2 separate regions of the Homo sapiens genome follow, and region 1 is linked to region 2. Evidence: fine-mapped expression QTL. A gene starts in region 2. The other region holds a variant in brackets. All regions are shown on one strand. Distances are between the middles of the regions. Region 1 overlaps BIN2 (bridging integrator 2). Region 2 holds the start of LETMD1 (LETM1 domain containing 1).

What was found. PIP is the estimated chance that this variant, and not a neighbour inherited with it, causes the effect.
Region 1: its variant is fine-mapped to the expression of LETMD1 in whole blood (TOPMed, PIP 0.95).

What each region holds. Positions count from the first base shown.
Region 1 is chr12:51,292,798-51,300,797 of GRCh38, reverse strand. BIN2 (bridging integrator 2) reads left to right here. Exons shown (of 13, transcript NM_016293.4): 6 at 1,084-1,191; 7 at 1,510-1,595; 8 at 3,634-3,709; 9 at 4,920-5,002. Among named protein-coding and RNA genes, the nearest start is that of SMAGP, 26 kb to the right of the region's middle. The variant T/C (reference allele first, on the strand shown) is at 3,433.
Region 2 is chr12:51,042,853-51,052,551 of GRCh38, reverse strand. LETMD1 (LETM1 domain containing 1) reads right to left here and starts at 4,225. Exons shown (of 9, transcript NM_015416.5): 1 at 4,074-4,225; 2 at 3,367-3,518; 3 at 345-460. The coding sequence starts at 4,195. RefSeq lists enhancers at 3,442-3,980, 4,181-4,230, 3,981-4,519, 4,341-4,610, 4,701-4,780 and 1 more.

The DNA.
Region 1 (8,000 bases), 250 kb before region 2:
TCTTTGTGCAAACAGAAGTCAAACTACTTCTTATCTTGGATGTTATAGAGAAGCCTCATGGTATTGTATGGGAAATTGGACCAGATAATTGCTAAGATCTTTTCAAATTCTGTGACTGAGAGAATGAAACGGTTCAAAGACATAGTTTGCTTCTCACTGGTATAATTTATAGTTTGGATAAGGCTGAGTAGACTTTCTCTCAGTGGTCATAGTAATTTATAGCTTTTATTGTGTTTTAGAGCTTTCAAAGCACTTTGTATTCAGCATTCACTCTTTCAAATAACAGTTGTATAAGGGGAGATGGGGCTACTGAGGCTCCAAAAGAGATGTGCCTTGCCACTGGCCACAGGCTATGAATGGCAGATTTGGGACTAATTCCCAAAAATCCAGACTTTCACTTTCATGTGATTCTCAAGGCCATTTCTCCTGGAGGCTGAACCAGTTTATAATGGGTTCATAGGAAATATTAAAATTTAATACAGCGGGAGGTGGAGGTGGAAATATATATATGTATTTAATTATATATCTATTACATATATATAATTAATACAGATTTCCACATGCTCTGTAGGACTCTATCTCCCTCTGAGACTCCCCCATTCTTCCCAGATACTGAGGGAGACCCCATGGGCGCAAAACCCTATTAGAAAGTGAAATTTGGGCCAGGTGCGGTTGCTCCTGCCTGTAATCCCAGCACTTTGGGAGGCCGAGGTGGGCATATCACATGAGCCCAGGAGTTCGAGACCAGCCTGGCTAAGATGGCAAAACCCCATCTCTACTAAAAATGCAAAAATTAGCCGGGCTTGGTGCACATGCCTATAATTCCAGCTACCTGGGAGGCCGAAGCACAAAAATTGCTTGAATCTGGGAGGCAGAGGTTACAGTGAGCTGAGATCGCACAACTGCACTCCAGCCTGGGCAACAGAGCAAGACCCTGTCTCAAAAAAAACAAAAGCAAAAAACAACGAAAGTGAAATTTGATAGTAGGATGCAAGAATCTTGCTCTCTGTTTGGTATTCTGTTACCTACATCCTGGCCACTAAAAAGTGAGTATCCACACCCTTTCTCATTACCCTGGGTCAGGAGAGAATTGCCAAGCGGGGTCGGAAACTCGTGGACTATGACAGTGCCCGACACCACCTGGAGGCAGTGCAGAATGCCAAGAAGAAAGATGAGGCCAAGACTGCCAAGGTAAAACAAAAACAACAACAAAAACTGGTAAACCCTTCCTGTTCTCCTTCTCCCCATGGTGGTAGCAGGTGGCTGGGCCAACATGGGTATAGGAAATTATAAATTCAGCATCCAGTGTCCTAAAGGAAATCTGTTTCTTCTGACACTGATGCTGTAAGGATAGTCAGAGTCTTGAGGCTGGGGAGGGCATGGTCAGGGGAAGAAGAGGGATGGCTCCTAAAAAGCCTAGTGCCTAAAAAAATGCAGAGGATGAAGGAGGCATGCTGTAGTACTGGGTTCAGAATTGAGGGAGATTGTCTTGTCTCTTTTACCACCTAGGCAGAGGAAGAGTTCAACAAAGCCCAGACTGTGTTTGAAGATCTGAACCAAGAACTACTAGAGGAGCTGCCTATTCTTTATAATAGGTAATGACTGAAATTCAGAAAAGGTGCCTTTGCTTCACACAAGGCACCTTGTGTGCCTTGACAGTAAGTAGATAAAAGTGTTTTAGATTTAAATTCCCACACTGCCCCGCCCCCTTTTTTTTTTTTTCGAGACAGGGTCTCACTCTGTCACCCAGGCTAGAGTGCAGTAGCACTCAATCTCAGCTCACTGCAACCTCCACCTCCCTAGTTCAAGTGATTGTTGTGCTTCAGCCACCCGAGTACCTGGGATTACAGGCATGTGCCACCATGCCTGGCTAATTTTTTTTTGTATTTTTAGTAGAGATGGGGTTTCACCATGTTGCCCAGGCTGGTCTCGAACTCCTGGCTTCAAGTGATCCCCCTGCCTTGGCCTCCCAAAGTTCTGGGATTACAGGCGTGAGCCACCATGCCCAGCCAGATTTTCCACATTTAAAGAGAAATCTAAGCAGAAACTCCATTTGTATCCTTTTTTCTTTTTATTGTACAAGAGATGCATTAATAGAATTATGGTCAGAATATTTTATATTGTCACTTATTAGTGTACATAGGATGGAGCCTTTTTAATGAACACATGTATTCTAAAACATTATGTGACTCCTAATTAAAATGAAATTGAAATTTTATTTTTTATTTTATTTTATTAATTAATTAATTTATTTATTTTGAGACAGGGTCTCATTCTGTCACCCAGGCTGGAGTGTGGCTCACTGTAACCTATGCCTCCCGGGTTCAAGCAATTCTCCCACCTCAGCTTCCTGAGTAGCTGGGACTACAGGCACGTGCCACCACACCTGACTAATTTTTGTTTTTGTTTGTTTGTTTGTTTTGTTTTGAGACAGAGTCTCACTCTGTTGCCAGGCTGGAGTGCAGTGGCACAATCTCGGCTCGCTGCAACCTCCACCTCCCGGATTCAAGCGATTCTCCTGCCTCAGCCTCCCAAGTAGCTGGGACTACAGGCGCGTGCCACTAAGTCCAGCTAAGTTTTTGTATTTTAGTAGAGATGGGGTTTCACCATGTTGGCCAGGATGGTCTCAATCTCCTGACCTTGTGATCCGCCTACCTCAGCCTCCCAAAGTGCTGGGATTACACGCGTGAGCCACCGTGCCTGGCCATTTTTGTATTTTTTGACAGGTTTCACCCTGTTGGACAGGCTGGTCTCAAACTCCTGACCTCAGGTGATCTACCTGCCCCAGCCTCCCAAAGTGCTGGGATTACAGGCATGAGCCACCGTGCCTGGCCTAGAAATGAAATTTAATACAGTTTCTTTAAAAGTATACCTCCTTGATTCACTTACAGGAGAATTCCATTAATGTACATACAGGCGCAGAAGTCATCCTGTATTGCATAAAGGGAAAGAATAATTACTTACTGTAATAGTTATAATTAGATAGCCTTATATTTATATAGCCCTTTAAAAAATTATTCAAAGCCCTTTTATGTCTCCTCAGCCCTTCAAGAGCCCAAATCAGATAACTCCATGAAACTGTTAAACTTTGGTGTCAGCCTGAGCTGATATTGTCTCCCCTGGCCTTCCTGCTCCTAAGAATCACGTGTGTTCCTGGCCCAGCTCTGACGAATCCAGATCCCAGAACATCCTGAGTGTGGGATGTGGGATGGCTTTCTTTTTTTATTTTTTAAAATAGAGTCTCGCTCTGTCGCCCAGGCTGGAGTGCAGTGGCACGATCTCGGCTCACTGCAACCTCTGCCTACCAGGTTCAAGCGACTCTTTTGCCTCAGCCTCCTGAGTAGCTGGGACTACAGGCTCATGCCACCACGCCCGGCTAATTTTTTTTTTTTTTAGTAGAGACGGGTTTTACCATGTTAGCCAGGATGGTCT[T/C]GATCTCCTGACTTCATGATACGCCCACCTTGGCCTCCCAAAGTGCTGGGATTACAGGCGTGAGCCACTGTGCCCAGCGGGATGGCTTTCATTTAGGAGCCTTGGTGGCTGGTTTTGGCTTAAGTCCTACTTTGTATTTCAAACAAAGAACTCCTTTCCCATGCCTTACTCGTATGTGTTTGTGGTTTTGCTTCCTAATAGTCGTATTGGCTGCTATGTGACCATCTTCCAAAACATTTCCAACTTGAGGGATGTCTTCTACAGGGAAATGAGCAAGGTGAGAGGTGTCTGGCCAATTGAGGCTCCTAGGTGTGTTTTCTAGTAAATATGAAGGTAGCCTTGACTTACATGATTTCTTTAAATATCCGTATTGGCACCACAGATTTTGGCTTTTCTCTCATGATGAAATAAGAGCACTTGATTGTGTACTTAACTGTATTGAAACACATATATACACTATCCGAGGGCCCTCTTCATCTCCCTTAACAACTGAGTAAGTGTGTCCAAATTTGAGCTTTAGCATGAATAAAGGAGGTTAGGCCTATAGAAGGAAAAATTAAAATGGGGAACCCCATTGTGAAATATCTATCTATTGTTGCTGGGGACTGGAGAGGGCAGTGTTTAAGGACAAGTCAGTTTCTCAGGTGGTTGGTCTCAAATAAGACTAATCCTGTCAGTGACAGGCAGCCATATAACATAATTTATGAAGTCTTTTCTAGTCCTGGGATTCCAAGATTCTTTGCTACTACAACATTTATATTAGTTATATTCACAAACAGCTATACATACTACTCTCCATAGTTTATTTGGCTAAAGTATGATTTGCCTAGTTAATATTAAAAATGAGGTTTTTTGGTTTTTTTTTTTTTGAGACGGAGTCTTGCTCTGGCACCTAGGCTGGAGTGCAGTGGCGCAATCTCTGCTCACTGCAAGCTCTGCCTCCCAGGTTCACGCCATTCTCCTGCCTCAGCCTCCCGAGTAGCTGGGACTACAGGTGCCCACCACCACGCCCAGCTAATTTTTTTGTATTTTTAGTAGAGACAGGGTTTCACCATGTTAGCCAGGATGGTCTCGATCTCCTGACCTCGTGATCCGCCCACCTCGGCCTCCCAAAGTGCTGGGATTACAGGCATGAGCCTGTAAAATGAGTTTTACATTTTTAGGCGCCTGGCCTAAAAATGAGTTTTCATTCCCTGGATCACCTGTGAGAAGCTAGAACCTCAAATCAGACATCAGTTATGGACCCTGCCTTGAGACAGCTGCCAGTCTGATGGAAGAGGCAGAACTTAGAACACAGAGAGACAGGGAAGAGGGGGTGGCGGGACAGGACCCTGGACTCTAATGCTAGACAGATGAAGAGGAATTCACATCAGAATTGAAAGGGGGAGGTTTTATTTTGGGAAGCTGTCTGAAGGGGAGGGGAGAAGGGATATGCCACTCTCGGGTTCCCAGTTGGCTAGCATCCCCTTCTTTCTTATTGGCTCTAGCTGAACCACAATCTCTACGAGGTGATGAGCAAACTGGAGAAGCAACATTCCAATAAAGTCTTTGTGGTGAAGGGACTGTCAAGGTGAGCAGCATCCAAGACTTTTTTGCTTCGCTTGTCCTGTGTGTGAATGTATTCAACATCCTCATCTCCAGTCCAGAATCCTGACCTGTCCCTTATGTGCATGTGCGTGATGATGTTTGTTGTTTGTACTATGCTCCTATATAAATTATTTTGCTTTTTACTAAATATATATATATATATATATATATATATATATATATATATATATATATATATATTTTTTTTTTTTTTTTGAGACGGAGTCTCACTCTGTCGCCCAGGCTGGAGCGCAGTGGCGCGATCTAGGCTCACTGCAAGCTCCGCCTCCCGGGTTCATGCCATTCTCCTGCCTCAGCCTCCTGAGTAGCTGGGACTACAGGCGCCCGCCATCACGCCCGGCTCATTTTTTTTTTTTTTTTTTTTTGTATTTTTAGTAGAGATGGCGTTTCACCGTGTTATCCAGGATGGTCTCAATCTCCTGACCTCGTGATCCGCCCGCCTCGGCCTCACAAAGTGCTGGGATTACAGGCGTGAGCCACCGCGCCCGGCCACTTTTTACTGAATATTTCAAGGCCAGACAATGGTGGCTCATGCCTATAATCCCAGTACTTTGGGAGGCTGAGGCAGGAGAATTACTTGAGATCAGGAGTTTGAAACCAGTCTGGGCAACATAGTGAAATCTCATCTCTACAAAAAAAGATTAAAAGAAAAAAAAAATTAGCCGGGCAAGGTGGTGCGTAACTGTACTCCTAGCTACTCAGGAGGCTGAAGCAGGAGGATCACTTGAGTGCAGGAGTTTGAGGGTGCAGTGAGCTATGATCATGCCACTGCACTCCAGCCTGGATGACAGAGCAAGACCCTGTCTCTAAAAAAATTAATAAAAATTAAATATTTTAGACATAACCGAACGTATAAAGAATAATACAACAAATAGCCATGTACCTACCATCAAATTTAAGAACTTGGCTGTTGTAAATATAGCTGAAGTTCCCAATGTTCCTTCCCCACTCACTTTTTCTTTCTGACCCCACTAAAGGTAACCGCTATGTTACATTTAGTATTTATCATTTCTATGTGTGTTGTTTTATGTGTGCATGTATGTTTCACACATAAAATAATACGCATGGAAATAAATACTAAATGTAATACTAAATGTAACATGCACACACTGTATTGTTTCACACATACATGCACACATAAAATATTGTTTTGCATGTTTTTGGGGGGTTTTTTTTGTTTTTTTTTTTTTTGAGACAGGGTCTTGCTCTGTCACCCAGGCTGGAGTGCAATGGCACAATCTTGGCTTACTGCAACCTCTGCTTCCCGGGTTCAAGCAATTCTCCTGCCTCAGCCTCCAGAGTAGCTGGGATTACAGGCACATGCCACCACACCCGGCTAATTTTTGTATTTTTAGTAGAGACGCGGTTTCACCATACTGGCCAGGCTGGTCTTGAACTTCTGACCTCGTGATCCGCCCGCCTTGGCCTCCCAGAGTGCTGGGATTACCGGTGTGAGCCACCACGCCCGGCTGTTTTGCATGTTTTTAAACTTTATATAAATGGACTTATACTGTATGTATTGTTCTGCAACTTCTTTTGTTCTCTTAGTGTTGTTTGTAAGATTTTTTGTTATTGCTACATGTTGTTATAATAGCTCTGCTGTTTCCTTTCTATAGTTGTTACTGTATGCCTACTTCATGATTTATTTATCCTCCTGCTAGTTTGGGGCATTTGAGTTGTCTTCTAGGTTTTTGCTATTATAAATAATGTTGTGATGAACATGTTTTACATTTGTCCCTGTGAATATTATCAAGAGTTTCTTTAGGGTCTATACTTGGAGCAGGATTGTTGAGTCATAAGGTCTGTCATGGGGCTTCTTGACCCTTAATGAGATATTTCCATATTGCTCTGCAAGGTGATAATTCCAGTTTACCACCCATCAGCAGTGAGTAAGAGCCCTCATGAGTCCACATTCTCACTACATGTGAAATTGTCAGACTTATTCATTCTTACAAGCTCATGAGTATAAAATGGAATTTTTTTGCAGTTTTAAATCATAGCTTCATAATTGCTAGTTTCCTTGAGCATCTTTTCATGTTATTGGCCATTTAAGGTTCCTGTTCTGTGACTTTCCTATATATCGTTTTCCCATTTTTCAATTGGGTTGTTGACCTTTTTTAAAAAAATCGATCTATGTAAGTTTTTGTGCCAGGCACGATGGCTCACGCCTGTAATCCCAGCACTTTGGGAGGCCGAGGCAGGTGGATCACGGGGTCAAGAGATCGAGACCATCCTGGCTAACACAGTGAAACCCCATCTCTACTAAAAATACAAAAAAAAATTAGCTGGGCATGGTGGCGGGCGCCTGTAGTCCCAGCTACTCGGGAGGCTGAGGCAGGAGAATGGCATGAACCCGGGAGTCAGAGCTTGCAGTGAGCCGAGATCGCGCCACTGCACTCCCGCCTGGGCGACAGAGCGAGACTCCATCTCAAAAAAAATAAAAAAATAAATAAAAATAAGGTGGTTTTTTTTTGGCTGATATATTCTAGATTCTAATCTTGGATGCTCAAGGATAAGCATGGCATCCAGCACATAGCAGCTACTTGATAGATGTTATAGTTGATTCTTGTTGTTCATGGTAGTTTTGTTTTATAAAGTTGCCATACTCACTGAACATCAAAACACAGGTTTCTGTGAGCCCCTGGTCACAACATTTTCATCAACCACCCAACATATAACCTTGTTTTATGTGAGTTTCTGTTTAAAGATACCTTATTTAATATATATTATTAATTTATTAATATTGAACTCACAACCAGCAGCATTGTAACTCATGCCTGAATGAAGCTTACCTAATAATACATGTATTTTCTCTGGAAGGCACATCACAGTCTTTTTGCACTTAGCACTACAGCTTGGGGGCCATTTAAAGTAGCAAAATCACCAGCAAAAAGCACAAAGTTAGGAAAACATGGTGGAAAGGACATTTGTTTACAGTTTGAGAACGGAAGCAAGAAGGT
Region 2 (9,699 bases):
CTCGGCTTCCCAAAGTGCTGGGATTACAGGCGTGAGCCACCGCGCCCAGCCCCCTTGCAGACTTTTGTTATGTTCAGAAACTAATTAGATTTTAGTATTTACAACTTTCATTCAGAAAGTGTGCCAGAAATTCTATGGAGCTCTTGCTATGGAGGGCTACAACTCTGGATGAACCCAATTCTTACAAATAATCTGATGCCTCATTCAGTTCAATATTTTGTTCTCACGGCAAAGGGCAAAAGCTTGATCAATGGTGAACAACAAATGAAAGAAAAAACCTTGAGATCTTGATTAAATGTAATTACCTCACCATGAACTTCTGGATATCTGCCCCTGGCCCATACCTGTCTCAAATGCTCCATCTCCCGGTATGGAAGTTGATGAAACTTTATATTGTGCTTCCACATATTTGTCTTTATTCTTCTAGCCTTTTTGGCATCAGCCCATAACATCTGCAATCCTGCCTCATTAAAGTAGAGGACAGAGTGTGATGTTATCCCAGTTTAAATCTTAACCACAGCTTCCTACTCCATGTTCAATCACATGCAAACACTCTCACCCCTCCCCAACGATACTCAAAGCTTTAAACTAGGTAACTTGAAACTCCTGAGGTCAACTCGAATCTCTTTTCTCAACATTTTTTCCCCTAGCACATCGCCTCTCTTCTAGCTACATTTGGCTTCTGTAATCTGCTATGGAATGGTCTCCCTCTTCTGTTTCACTGGTCACTCCTTTTTAAAAATCAAGCTCCCTAACTTCAGAAAGTCTTGCTAAATTAACCCTATGTATTCCCCAGCCAGATATTAATTTAATCTCCTTTCTGGAACTTTTTTTTTCTTTTTTTTGAGATGGAATCTCACTTTGTTGCCCAGGCTGGAGTGCAGTGGTGCGATTTCGGCTGACTGCAACCTCCACCTCCCAGGTTTATATAATTCTCCCACCTCAGAATCCCAAGTAGCTAGGATTACAGGCGTGTGCCACCATGCCTGGCTAATTTTTGCATTTTTAGTAGAGATGGGGTTTCACCATGTGGACAGGCTCGTCTTTAACTCCTGACCTCAAGCAATCCACCTGCCTCGGCCTCCCAAAGTGCTGGGATTACAGGCATGAGTCACTGCGCCCGGCCTGGAACACTTATTTTTGTTTTTGAGATGGAGTTTTGCTCTGTCGCCCAGGCTGGAGTGCAGTGGCGCAATCTCGGCTCACTGCAACGTCCACCTCCTGAGTTCAAGCAATTCTCCTGCCTCAGCCTTCCGAGTAGCTGGGATTATAGGTGCCCATCACCACACCTGGCTAATTTTTGTATTTTTAATAGAGACTGGGTTTCACCATGTTGGCCAGGCTGGTCTCAAACTCCTGACCTCATGATCCGCCCGCCTTGGCCTCCCAAAGTGCTAGGATTACAGGCGTGAGCCACCGTGCCCAGCCTGGAACACTTTTTAAAGTAGTTTAGTTCAATATATTTTTATGATTACATTTTAAATTTTCATTTTATGAAAATTCTTGCATCTAATTTTTTTCTTTTCTTTTTTTTTTTGAGATGGGAGTTTCACTGTTGTTGCCCAGGCTGGAGTGCAATGGTGCGATCTTGGCTCACCACAACCTCCGTCTCCCAGGTTCAAGAGATTCTCCTGCCTCAGCCTCCCTAGTAGCTGGGATTACAGGCATGTGCCACTATACCTGGCTGATTTTGTATTTTTAGTAGAGACGGTGCTTCTCTATGTTGGTCAGGCTGGTCTCAAACGCCCGACCTCAGATGATCCGCCCGCCCCGGCCTCCCAAAGTGCTGGGGTTACAGGCATGAGCCACCGCGCCCGGCTTCTTGCATCTATTTCTTTAATGCTTTCATATTTATCAATGATTTACATGTCATTATATGATGTCTCGATTGTCTTCAAAATAATACATAAGGCAAGTATATAAATAGGATTGGCAGCCATGAGTTATGATAATGAAGTGAGGTTAATACATGGAAGTTTGTTACACTACTCTCTCTACATCTGTGTGTGTTTAAAAATTTCCATAATAGTTGGCCGGGCGCGGTGGCTCAAGCCTGTAATCCCAGCACTTTGGGAAGCCGAGGCAGGCGGATCACGAGGTCAGGAGTTAGAGACCAGCCTGGCCAATATGGTGAAACCCCACCTCTACTAAAAATAAAAAAATTAGCCTGGTGTGGTGGCAGGCGCCTGTATTCCCAGCTACTTGGGAGGCTAAGGCAGGAGAATTGCTTGAATCCGGGAAGCAGAGGTTGCAGTGAACCGAGATCATGCCATTGCACTCCAGCCTGGGCGACACGGTGAGACTCAAAAAAAAAAAAAATTCATAATAAAAAGTTTAAAAACAAACACAAATGCTTTCATCCCTTTCTCTCATTTGATCCTATTTATCTACATGAAAACAGAAAAAGCAGCCAATTTTATCTCTACAAATTAAGGATAAGTAATTTTTCAAGTCCATGAAGCTAGTAATAATTATGATAATGTTCAGATTTGACAATGTAGTTTATTATAGTGTTATGATAAAAGCATAGAGCATATTATAGATTTGGTGCAAAAGCAATTGTGGTTTTTGCCACTGAAAGCCAAAAGCCGCAATTACTTTTGCACCAACTTATAATACTGTTAGGTAACATTTAGATGAAAATAAGTTAACATTTACTTGGCACTTACTAGGGATCAGGACCTGTTCTAGGTACTTTACATGTATCAATTTTTAAAGTCTTCACAATCATGTGATAAATAGGTAGGTTCCATTACTCCCATTTTACACATAAGAAAACCAAGGAAAGAGGGGTTAATTAATTAGTCCAATCGCACAGTGACGAACTGGGATTTGAATCAGGCAATCTGGCTCCAGAGTAGACACTTGACACGATACATATCTTCTCCTAGTAACTAAGGATCTCTGATTTGAAACAAAACATTTAGAAACCAAGTATTATGTAGGGCTATTGCCACTACAACATACTACCTAATATAGATTCATAACAAGGGTTAGACCTCATTTTCCTATGGGTAAGTCAACTGATACATCACAGGGCAGGTCTATACAGCCACAGATCCCTGCCGTGTGCAAGGCAAAAAATTTCTACTATAGCCAGGTGTGTGGTTAAGAAAGTACGAGAACATACCTATATTCTCCCTCCCTCATGTTGCTGTCATAAGTTGTTTCTCATAACATCTTTCTAGAAACATTCTCAAGAAGTGCTAATTTATAGGAATTAGTTTAAGGCGCAGGCATTTATGAAATATAAGATATCTCGGCTCACATCCCCATAGCAGAACCTGCAAATGATCTTATTTATGCTAACTCTTTGACCCTGCCCAAGAGCTGATTCCGGAATTTCTATTGTAGTTTCGTTTTTACCTTTCATGAAGATTGTGTACAGGACATAGAAGCGGGGGAAATGACGACCCAAGAAACGATGGTATTTCCCATTAATCGCTTTTGTCTTGGTTACCACATAAGACATCAAGTTCTTCACATCTGCCTTTGGAGAAAGGTGAAGCTTTGAAGACCTACAAGGAAGATCAAAGAGACTATCTGGGAATCAGTCCTAGAAGCTCCCTCACGCCTTGAGTCCCTAATGTAAAGCAGGAGTCTCGGAGATTGTATCCCAAGGCTTGACACTTCTGAAATCCAAGGAAGGTCTTGGGGTCAAGAAGAGATAGGCAATCAGACTGTGAAACACAAATCAGGCAAAGGCCAGGCAGGAAAGTAACTCAGGGTATGCCTCTGGAGAGAGCGCAATGCCTGTGGGACAATTTGAACTGCAGGCTAAGTCAGAAAGAGGTGGAATCGAGATAGCAGCGGTAAAACCTGAGCCGAAAAAGTGAGGCTGAAAGATGAGCTCAGGACACGCGGGGAAACCAGACAATATGGGGCACTGAGAGTACAGAGGGTCAGGAAGCCGGGTCACTAGTGGGGATCGGAGTTTGAATCCTGAACAGAAGAATAAAAATTCCAGGGCCAAGGCGTGGAACTCTGAGAATTAAGAGACAGAATGCAAGCAAGGTTGAGACACTGAAAGAGCCTGGACGTCAAAAATGCTTTTCTCGCTACAGGTCCCTCACCGAGGGGCCCCCCAAGCCAGGCCAGAGCGACCAAGTTGCAGCCTCCGGGTGACAAAATGTCCAGGGGTGACTGCCGAGCCCCACACAGCCGACCGAGCCCAGCACACCCTGGAGAGCGCCATCTTCACAGCGAGAGAAGCGGGAGAGAAGAGGTTGTCTTTGGGTCAAAGTTAACCGTACGTCGCGTTCGTTCGAAGACGCATGCGTCTTTTCTGAGCGCTGATTGGTAGCCATAGCCTGCTTGGCTCCAGCACAAGCCAGGAGAGGGAAGGACTCAAAGACTAAGTGCGGAAGGAGGGCCAGGATTGGACACAGCAGTACTTCCAGGTTTAAAGGCGCCGGAAACAGGGTGTCCCAGAGGGAGCGAGTTCTTATGCCACTGGTGTGGGTTTGCGACGCGGAGGGCACCCTGTCCTTGAGGCGCCCAGTGACCCTCCGCGATTCCTTAGGGCCTCAGGGCTTCCCAGCGCCGCCCTTGCCCTCTGCCTGGACTCGGGGCGTCGGAGCCTCGACTGTTAGGTAGCAGATGTCAGTTTGCCAGTGCCTGGGGCTAGGAGGACCCGCGGCGCCCTCTAATGGTGCCGGCGTGGATAGGCCGGGAACTGTCCACTTTCCAGTCAGTCTGGCGGCGAAGGTTGGAGGCCTGGGAGCGGCCCCTGTGCGGACTGAGTACACTTTTTCCTCTCTTTGTCGTTTCCAGAACTAAGTTTGTGGGAAAATGGTTTTCGTTAAGCACCTACCGAAGACCAAGCTCTGTCTCAACTTAAATGTTACTATTCTGAGAGGATTTCTGTGACCACCCTATCTGAAGCAGTGCCGGCGAAAAGGACACACTTCACACTTATTCTCATGTTACTCTGTTTTGTTTTGTTTTGTTGTTTTGTTTTTGTGACAGTTTTGCTCTGTCGCCCCGGCTGGAGTGCAGTGGCGCGATCTTGGCTCACTGCAGCCTCCGCCTCCCGGGTTCAAGCGATTCTCCTGCCTCAGCCTCCCGAGTATCTGGGATTACAGGCGTCCGCCACCACGCCCGGCTAATTTTTGTATTTTTAGTAGAGACGGGATCTCACTATGTTGGTCAGGCTGGTCTTCAACTCCTGGCCTCAAGTGATCCGCCAGCCTTGGCCTCCCAAAGTGCTGGGATTACAGGCGTGAGCCACTGCACCCGGCCTTGTATTTTCTTTGTAGCATCTGTCACTTACAGTGTTTATGTATTTGTGTCCTTGTTTGACAGCTCCCTGAACTAGAATGAGGGTAAGCATCTTCTCTGCCTTGTTCATTGCTGCACCTCCAACACTAGGTGCCTTACTTAGCACATAGTAGGTGTTCAGTAAACATGTTTGAATAGATTCATACTTGAAACTAAGAAGGATTCCCAGAAGTGGTACTTAACTGCCTCCAAGAATTAACAGTCCTCTTGGATATATATGAATATTTATTCTTCATGGAAGGTGGTAGAGCATCCCATGTGGGTTCCCTGGATATAGGTTCAATCTTGGCATTGACGTTTGTTTTAGTGAATGTTACCTTGGATATGTCACTTTAGCTCTGAGTTTATTTCCCTTATAATAGTACCTACTTTATAAGAAATCTTTGAGGATCCAAAGAGAATACAGCTGTGAAAGCTCCCACATCTGTATAATGCTTTATGGGTCACAGAGCTTTATATTAGCACAGGTTATTAATGACTGTACCACTCGTGCAGTCAGAGGAAAAGTTTTAAAAGATGGCCCTGGATCTTCACAAGTGTTGGGTAGATGGGGTGGACGGGATAGAAAGTTGACTAAGACGGCTGGGCGCCGTGGCTCATGCCTGTAATCCCAGCACTTTGGGAGGCCGAAGCGGGCTGATTACCCGAGGTCAGGAGTTCGAGACCAGCCTGGACAACATGGTGAAACCTCATCTCTACTAAGAATACAAAAATTAGCCGGATGTGGTGGTGGGCGCCTGTAATCCCAGCTACTCGGGAGGCTGAGGCAGGAGAATCGCTTTAACCCAGGAGGCGGAGGTTGAGGTGAGCCAAGATCGCACCACTGCACTCCAGCCTGGGCAACAGAGTGAGACTGTCTCAAAAAAAAAAAAAAAAAAAAAAAAGTTGACTAAGACATGGTCTTCATATTCAGGTAGTTTTTTTTTTTGTTTTTTTTTTTTTTGGAGACAGAGTCTCACTCTGTCACCCAGGCTGGAGTGCAGTGGCGCAATTTCAGCTCACTGCAACCTTCATCTCCCGGATTCAAGTGATTCTCCTGCCTCAGCCTCCCAAGTAGCTGGGTTTACAGGCGCCCGCCACCATGCCCAGACAACTTTTGTATTCTTTTTTTTTTTTTTTGACACGGAGTCTCGCTCTGTTGCCCAGGCTGGAGTGCAGTGGCGCAATCTCGGCTCACTGCAACTTCCGCCTCCCGGATTCACACCATTCTCCTGCATCAGCCTCCCGAGTAGCTGGGACTGCAGGTGCCCACCACCACACCTGGCTAATTTTTTGTATTTTCAGTAGAAACGGGGTTTCACCATGTTAGCCAGGATGGTCTTGATCTCCTGACCTCGTGATCCTCCCACCTCGGCCTCCCAAAGTGCTGGGATTAGAGGTGTGAGCCATCACACCCAGTCCAATTTTTGTATTCTTAGTAGAGACGCGGTTTCACCATGTTGGCCAGGCTAGTCTCGAACTCCTGAACTCAGGTGATCTGCCCACCTCAGCTTCGCAAAGTGCTGGGATTACAGGCGTGAGCCAACGTGCCCAGCCATCTTCAGGTAGCTTCTGAGTCATGTCAACTACTCAAGAATGTTCAGCTCTAAAATTCTGGAACTCTCTTGGAAAGGAGACAAAATCAGAATTTTGTGGAGAAAATAGGAAGGAACTGTGTCTGAAAGGATGGAGTAGAGGGGAAGGCATTTCATGCAATGAAAGAATGTGGCAGGAACACAGGTCATTCCTCAGACTTTTCTTTCTTTCTCTTCCTTCCTTTCCTTCCTTTTCTTTCTTTCCTTCCTCTCTTTCTTTCTCTTTCTCTCTTTCTTTCTTTCATAGGGTCTCGCTGTGTCGCCCAGGCTAGAGTGCAGTGGCCCCATCATGGCTCACTGCAGCCTTGATCTCCTGGGCTCAAGTGGTCCTCTCACCTCAGCCTCCCAAGTAGCTGGGATTACAGGCGCATGCCGCCACGCCCAGCTAATTTTTGTGTTTTTAGTAGAGATAGAGATTTGCCACGTTAGCCAGGCTGATCTTGAACTCCTAGACTCAAGCAATTCCCCTGCCTTGATCTCCCAAAGTGCTGGGATTACAGACTTGAGCCACTGCACCCAGCCCTTTCCTGAGATATTTATTTAGTGTTTAGGCCTCTTCCCCCTTTCCCCCGCTACACACACACACACACACACACACACACACACACACGCGCGTGCACACGCACACACACACACACACACACATGCATCTTGTTGGTTCTATCTTCTAGCTGTTCTTCAATCAGCCAGCTTCCTTCTATCTTCTCTGCCACCACCCTAGGCTAAGCTGCAAGCCTCTGGTCCCCACTTCTACAGCAGCCTCTTTACTGGTTTCCCTGCCATATGTTTTGTCCTCCCTCCAACCAGTTCTCCATGTTGTATGTAACCAGAGAGAGCTTTTAAAATTGCAAATCTAAGCTTGTCATTTCTCTTTATAAAACCTTTCAGGTTTCCGACTGGGCGCGGTGGCTCACGCCTGTAATCCCAGCACTTTGGGAGGCCGAGGCGGGCGAATCACGAGGTCAGGAGATCAAGACCATCCTGGCCAACATGGTGAAACCCCATCTCTTCTAAAAATACAAAAATTAGCCGGGCATGGTGGTGCGTGCCTATAATCCCAGCTGCAGCTACTCAGGAGGCTGAGGCAGGAGAATCACTTTAACTTGGGAGGCGGAGGTTGCAGTGAGCTGAGATCACACCATTGCACTCCAGCCTGGGCAACAGAGTGAGACTGTGTCTCAAAAAACAAACAAACAAAAGGCTGTGGGCTGGGCACAGTGACTCACACCTGTAATCCCAGCACTTTGGGAAGCTGAGGCAGGCAAATCACCTGAGGTCAGGAGTTCAAGACTAGCCTGACCAATATGATGAAACCCCGTCTCTACTAAAAATATAAAACTTAGGCTTGGCGCAGTGGTCCATGCCTGTAATCCCAGCACTTTGGGAGGCCAAGGCAGGTGGATCACCTGAGGTCGGGAGTTCAAGACCAGCCTGACCAACATGGAGAAACCCCGTCTCTACTAAAAATACAAAATTAGCCAGACTTGGTGGCGTATACCAGTAATCCCAACTACTCAGGAGGCCAAGGGAGAAGAATCGCTTGAACCCGGGAGGCGGAGGTTGTGGTGAGCTGAGATTGCGCCACTGCACTCCAGCCTGGGCAACAAGAACGGAACTCCATCTCAAAAAGAAAAAAAAAAACAAAAATTAGCTGGGCATGGTGACATACACCTGTAATCCCAGCTATTCAGGAGGCTGAGAGAGGAAAATTGCTTGAACCCGGGAGGCAGAGGTTGCGGTGAGCCGAGATCACGCCATTGCCTCCAGCCTGAGCAACAAGAGCGAAACTCTGTCTCAAAAAAAAAAAAAAAAAGAAAAACCAAGCTGTGCCACAACCACCTTGGGCACGTGTCATCAGGACCTCCTAAGGCTGTGTCATGTCCTTGACCTTGGCAAAATAAACTTTCTAAATTGATTGAGACCTGTCTCAGATATTTTGGGTTCACATAGGTGTGAGTCACTAAGCCAGACCTAGCTCCACTTTATACATGAGGAAAATGAGGTTCAATAATCTGCTCAAGATTGAGTCAGAATTTGAACCCAGGCAGGCTGGGCATATGAGTTAGTGCTGCACTGTATATAAACAGCTCTGTTACAGGAAACTCTTAACCCCACAGACTGAGGTTCCTGTTACTCACTTTGTAGCTAGCTATACTTATTTTTCATAGTACTTAACATCATAATTAATTAGCTGTGTCATTATACATTTCATGGCTATCTTCCCCACAGGAGTCTAAGCTCACTGTATTCCAGTCCCTGGCACACAAGGGGGGCTTATTAAATATTTATTAAATGAATATGGCCAAGCGCAGTGGCTCATATTTGTAATCCCAGCACTTTGGGAGGCTGAGGAGGATGATCACTTGAGGTCAGGAGTTCGAGACCAGCCTGGGCAAGATAGTGAAACCACGTCTCTACCAAAAATACAAAAATTAGCTGGGCGTGGTGGCACACGCCTGTAATCCCAGCTACTCTGGAGGCTGAAGCAGGAGAATCACTTGAACCCGGGAGGTGGAGGTTGCAGTGAGCTGAGATCATGCCACTGTACTCCAGCCTGGGTGACAGAGTGAGACTTCATCTCAAAAATAAAATAAAAACTACAGAGGCTGAGCACAGTGGCTCATGCCTGTAATCCCAGCACTTTGGGAGGCCAAGGTGGGCGGATCACGAAGTCAGGAGTTTGAGACCAGCCTGACCAACATGGTGAAATCCCGTCTCTACTAAAAATACAAAAATTAGCCAGGCGTGGTGGTGTGCACCTGTAATCCCAGCTACTCAGGAGACTGAGGCAGGAGAATCACTTGAACCCGGGAGGGGGAGGTTGCAGTGAGCCGAGATCATGCCA